Linked DNA regions of Homo sapiens: region 1 is linked to region 2. The links come from fine-mapping of genetic effects on gene expression. A gene starts in region 2. The other region holds a variant in brackets. All regions are shown on one strand. Distances are between the middles of the regions. Region 1 overlaps CSPG4 (chondroitin sulfate proteoglycan 4). Region 2 holds the start of SNX33 (sorting nexin 33).

Region 1 (2,867 bases), 39 kb before region 2:
ACAGACGACGTGGCCTTCAGCGATGCTGACTCGGGCTTTGCTGACGCCCAGCTGGTGCTTACCCGCAAGGACCTCCTCTTTGGCAGTATCGTGGCCGTAGATGAGCCCACGCGGCCCATCTACCGCTTCACCCAGGAGGACCTCAGGAAGAGGCGAGTACTGTTCGTGCACTCAGGGGCTGACCGTGGCTGGATCCAGCTGCAGGTGTCCGACGGGCAACACCAGGCCACTGCGCTGCTGGAGGTGCAGGCCTCGGAACCCTACCTCCGTGTGGCCAACGGCTCCAGCCTTGTGGTCCCTCAAGGAGGCCAGGGCACCATCGACACGGCCGTGCTCCACCTGGACACCAACCTCGACATCCGCAGTGGGGATGAGGTCCACTACCACGTCACAGCTGGCCCTCGCTGGGGACAGCTAGTCCGGGCTGGTCAGCCAGCCACAGCCTTCTCCCAGCAGGACCTGCTGGATGGGGCCGTTCTCTATAGCCACAATGGCAGCCTCAGCCCCCGCGACACCATGGCCTTCTCCGTGGAAGCAGGGCCAGTGCACACGGATGCCACCCTACAAGTGACCATTGCCCTAGAGGGCCCACTGGCCCCACTGAAGCTGGTCCGGCACAAGAAGATCTACGTCTTCCAGGGAGAGGCAGCTGAGATCAGAAGGGACCAGCTGGAGGTGAGGAGTTGGAGGTGGTGAGCAGGGGTGTGGGCCAGGTAGAGGGCCTTCTCCCAGCCTCCATGCCAGGAACACACGTGACTTGGGCTGTGGCTGTGGTGGCTCCAGGTTACATGTGTGCACGTGCCTCAGATGTGCTCCCGTATATGTTGTGCTCCCAGGAGTTTCTGGGGAGCTTGCTATACACCCATCCTCCTGGGAGTTGTGTGCGCCTCCAGAGGTTGTGTCCACTCATGTGTATGACATGGCTGAGCATGCAGATTCCTGGACCCCACCCAGCCCTACAGAATCTCTGACGTGGAGCCCGAGAATCTCCATTGCAGTCAGTTCCCTGGGAGGACATCACGGGTCCTGAGCTTTGGGGATTGCTGACCGTGGAGACAGGCCGCTACTCCTCAGACCCTCATGTCCCCCACTCTTTTCTCAGAGCCCAGACCTGGGTGGCTTCTGCCCACCCAGGAACCCCACAGAGCAACCACGGGCCCTCCAGCAGGCTCACTGACTTGCCCTGTGACCTCAGGCCAGTCCTTGCCCGCTCTTGGCCTTACTCTCCTACACTGCTCATTTCGGAGACCCTTCTGGTCTGCATGTCTGGAGCTTGGGGCCGACAGCAAGCCAGCAGATCTGGAGTCAGGAAGGCCTCGCGGGAGGAGGCAGCGTTTGGGCCGGGCTCTGAAGAGCACAGGCCATCAGGAGCAGAGAATGGGGAGTGGTATTCCAGGCAGAAGGAACATTCCGGGCAAATGCATAGAACAGGAATGTGAGTTTGGGGGGTGGTTTGGCCTCTTGTGGCTGGCCCATCAGGTGAGGGAGCCCGTGTGGCCTTTGGGGCGTGAGCTCTGTAGGGCCTGAGCTGAAGGCGGCTGTGCCTCCAGGAGGGGTGGGGCGGGGCGCCCTCTGATGGTCCTGGGTGGTAATAGCAGGGGCTGGGGAGGTGCTGCCTGCAAACCAGCCACAGGCCTGAACGGATCCTGAGCAGGGGGGCCTGTGTGTGTG[T/C]GTGTGCACACACGCATGTGTACATGTGTGACTGCGTCAGCATATGATGAACTCGTGTGTCTGTGTCACTGAGTCTGGGGACATGTGATTATGCACCTCCCTGAGGGAGTGCATCTCAAGCTGTGTGACCGACCCCCTGCAACCGTGTGTGGGGTGGGCATTAACATGTGACCAGCAGCCGGGGCAACCCAGTGAAACCCCATCTCTACACAAAAAATTTAAAAATTAGCCGGGCCTGGTGGCACATGCCTGTGGTCCCAGCTACTTGGGAGGCTGAGGTAGGAGGATCCCTTGAGCCTGGGAAGTTGAGGCTTCAAGGAACTGTGATTGTACCACTGCACTCCAGCCTGGGTGACAGAGTGAGACCCTGTCTCAAAAAACAAAAAATGTGACCAGCTGCATGTCTGGCTGCTGTGTGTGTGAACCCACGTGTGTGTTTGTGTGTCTAAATGAGCAGTGGTATCTAGAGGAATAAGTGGGGCAAGATCAAGCCTGTTCCGGCTTCTTAGGGCCACAGTGGACCCCTCTGAGACCCCCTCTGTGGCCCCCTGTGAGTCCTTGTGACCTCTGTTAACCAGGCAGCCCAGGAGGCAGTGCCACCTGCAGACATCGTATTCTCAGTGAAGAGCCCACCGAGTGCCGGCTACCTGGTGATGGTGTCGCGTGGCGCCTTGGCAGATGAGCCACCCAGCCTGGACCCTGTGCAGAGCTTCTCCCAGGAGGCAGTGGACACAGGCAGGGTCCTGTACCTGCACTCCCGCCCTGAGGCCTGGAGCGATGCCTTCTCGCTGGATGTGGCCTCAGGCCTGGGTGCTCCCCTCGAGGGCGTCCTTGTGGAGCTGGAGGTGCTGCCCGCTGCCATCCCACTAGAGGCGCAAAACTTCAGCGTCCCTGAGGGTGGCAGCCTCACCCTGGCCCCTCCACTGCTCCGTGTCTCCGGGCCCTACTTCCCCACTCTCCTGGGCCTCAGCCTGCAGGTGCTGGAGCCACCCCAGCATGGAGCCCTGCAGAAGGAGGACGGACCTCAAGCCAGGACCCTCAGCGCCTTCTCCTGGAGAATGGTATGGCTGTGAGAGAGGCCCAGGGGCTGCAGCCCAGCTCTGGGGGCAGAGTGGAGGGAGCCCTGGGGACTCCCAGTCTGGGGGTTATACACAGAGAGGAGACGGGGAGTCACATTTCAGAAGCACCTATGCTTT
Region 2 (2,890 bases):
GGCTCATGTCCACAGTCTCCTCCTCCCTTAGCAGCCTCTGGGGGGTTAGAGGGGAATCTCTCCTAACTCCTACTCCCAGAAGAAAAGTCAAGTGACCTGGAGAAATCTGCCCTGCGAGGGGAAAAATTCGACACTTTCCACTGGAACAACGTTCTAAAATAGAAGAGACTCACTCTGAAACCACCATTCCAGAAACCCGGGCAGGGCTCGGCTGTCCCTCTGGCTCCCAGATTCTTTTGGCGGCTCTCGCTTTGGGAGGCTCTCACATTCCTCTGCAGATCTGCCCCTTCCTCCTTCCTCCTCTTGCTCCTGGGCCACTGGGTTTTCAAAAATCCGGAAAATCCAAGAGGGGCAAGGAGAAAAGCAGCAGCCGCCTGAATCGAGTCCAAGGGTGGATGTGTCCGGCTTCACAACGAGCCAGGCCGGGAAAACAAGGACTGAGGCTTACACAACAGGCCGCCAACTCTTCGACCCCGGCTGCGCAGCCGGAGCCCCCGCCGGCTCGGGCGCCCTCTCCCCGCCCCAGAAGTGGCCAGCCCCAACCCCGGAGGAAGGAGGGGGCGCGACGAGGCTGTCGGGCGACTTCTAGCCACTCGCTGAGTGGTCTCTTTTGTTTGCCTAATTCCTCAGCAGTTTCTGAGCCTGACGCTGACCCTGCTCTGAATCCCAGGAACCCCGTCCAAAGGTAACCCCAGCAGAAACCGGTTCCTCACCCGGGACTTACGACCCCCGATCACCACCCTCGCGTGCACGCACACACTCAACAGTTTGGAGTTTGGAGAGTGAGCTCCGGCGAGCAGATGGCGCGGCCAGCCGTCTGTCCGTCCGTCCTCCTCTCCGCCCTGCGGGGCCCGGCCAGTGGGGGGCGGGCTGCGCCCCCAGCCTGCCTTCCCCGGCGCTCGCAGACCCTCCGCTCCGCCAGCGAGAAGGCAGCTCCAAAACAAAAAGGCGATTCCGGGAGGTGGCGTCCTGAGGAAGGAGGGGATCGCCAAAGGGGAGGTGAGGGGTGGGGAGAGGGAGGAGGGAGGGGGAAGCAGGCTGGAGAATCGGGCAAACTCCGCTGCACTTCCGTGCGTCCCGGCGGGGCAGGGACGGCCAGCTCCGCCCTCCCGCGGGCCCGGGGCGCTGCAGCCGAGCCCCCGCCTACTCCTCCGCGCGGCTTCCCAGCTGGCCAGCGCCCTCGCTCGCTGGCGCTCAGTCCGGGAGGCGAGAGGGAGGAAACGACCCGGGAACGAGGGGGCCCGAGAGCCTCCGGGGCTGGTCCCTGGGACCGCCACCTCCCCTCCTCTCCCTCCGCCTGTCCGCCCTCGCCGGGAGACACCTCACGCCCCCGTGGTTGGAGCGCCCGGCGGGGGAGCTTGCCAGCTGCCGCTGCCTCGCTTCCTGGACTCCGTCATCCTCCTGCCTTTTCCGTGACGCAAATGGAGTAAAACTCCGAAAGTTTGCAAAGCGTGGGGCTGCAAGGAGCACCGCGCCAGAGCCAGGATCGGGAGATCGGGGTGGGGGGAGGGGGGTGCGTGGAAAGCCGCCGCGCCAGCTGGGGTTGGGGAGCAGAGTCGCGGACTCGCCTTCCCACCTTCCCATTCCCCACTCCTGCTCCGCAGGGACGGGTCGTGGCGCAGCTCAGAGATTGTTTTCCGGAGGAACAGAAACGGCCTGCGCGTTCCAGGCGTCTGACCTAAGATACCGAGAGCTGCGGGTGCAGCACCCTAGCCAGACAGGGCGACCCTGCCCTGGGCGACTAGCTTGGAAGGAGGGAAAGACACTACTCTACATCTGCAGCGACAGGGAACAAGTCTAGGTGCCACCCGGTTCCGTGTTGCTTAGTACAGCAGCGGGGACTGGATGTTCTGTGCTAGCCAGCGGCAGCAAGGAGAGAAGTGGTCAGGTAGAGAATCTTCGAGAAGAGGCAAGTGGGATCTGACCCTCGGTCAGCATATCGGGAACACTTTGGGCATTGATTCTGCTAGGCACTGTGCTGGGCACTGGGGAGTAGTACACCACAAGGCAGTCGGGGTTTCTATCCTGGGGGGCTTACAGTCCACCCTCTCTTGTCTTTAATCAATCCATTCTGTCTCAGTCATTCATTCAGCCAAGTCATGCACTCAAGAAACATTAACTGAGTACCTACTCTGCACCAGGCCCCTGAGCTACAAAGACAAATAAGACATTATCCTTATTTTCCAAAAGCTCAGATATGTTGTGACAAGTAGACAAATGCTCCCTGCCCAGTGTGACTAGTTAGTGCCATGAAAAGTGCACATGAGGGTACCTACCCCAGCCTGGGTAGAGCAAGGATCAAGGAAAGCTTCCTGAAGGAGGAAGTGCCTAAGATGAGGCAAAGGCTTCAGGAGGACTCCCTTTCCTGGCTATACCCTGGAGTCTTGTCTACCCTGTCTAGCTAGATCTTCCCTTCATTCTCTCCCTAGTCACTTATTGCAGATTAACTGGTACAAGGTAGTTCTGCTAAAGATGGATACCTTTGGCTGTTTTGAGGGACATGGTTCCCAGACCTCTGGCTCCAAAACCCAGTTTCACTGGTTCAGTGAGTGGATCCGACTCCCTTCGCAGGTCTGGCATTTGACCAGAATAAAGGCCTATGTACAAACCCCAGAAGGCTAGGTATCAATTTGCACAGAGAAATAAAACTGTCAAGCAGAACTGAATTTCTGCATCAATAGATCAAGGCAGTTTGGGCTACCCCTTGGGAAGCCCAGTTACCAGAAAGTTAGCTCAGTGAGTCTGGAACCCCCAAGAGGGGAAAGGGTATGAGGAGTCTCTCAGTCAAGTAACCTTAAAACCTTGCTTCCTGTCATGGGGCAGCCTTCATTCTAAAGACAGTTCGTCCTAGCATCTCTAAGACAGAATATACGTTTTCCCCACGTGCTTT

Evidence for each region. PIP is the estimated chance that this variant, and not a neighbour inherited with it, causes the effect. A credible set is the group of variants that fine-mapping cannot tell apart.
Region 1: its variant is the best candidate, but not a certain one, in a credible set for the expression of SNX33 in whole blood (INTERVAL, PIP 0.81).

Annotation. Positions count from the first base shown.
Region 1 is chr15:75,685,084-75,687,950 of GRCh38, reverse strand. CSPG4 (chondroitin sulfate proteoglycan 4) reads left to right here. Exons shown (of 10, transcript NM_001897.5): 3 at 1-675; 4 at 2,250-2,732. Among named protein-coding and RNA genes, the nearest start is that of CSPG4, 26 kb to the left of the region's middle. RefSeq lists enhancers at 760-1,264, 1,265-1,770. The variant T/C (reference allele first, on the strand shown) is at 1,672.
Region 2 is chr15:75,645,972-75,648,861 of GRCh38, reverse strand. It overlaps SNX33 (sorting nexin 33), which reads right to left and starts at 950. Exons shown (of 2, transcript NM_153271.2): 1 at 1-950. RefSeq lists an enhancer at 475-1,166 and a silencer at 792-1,331.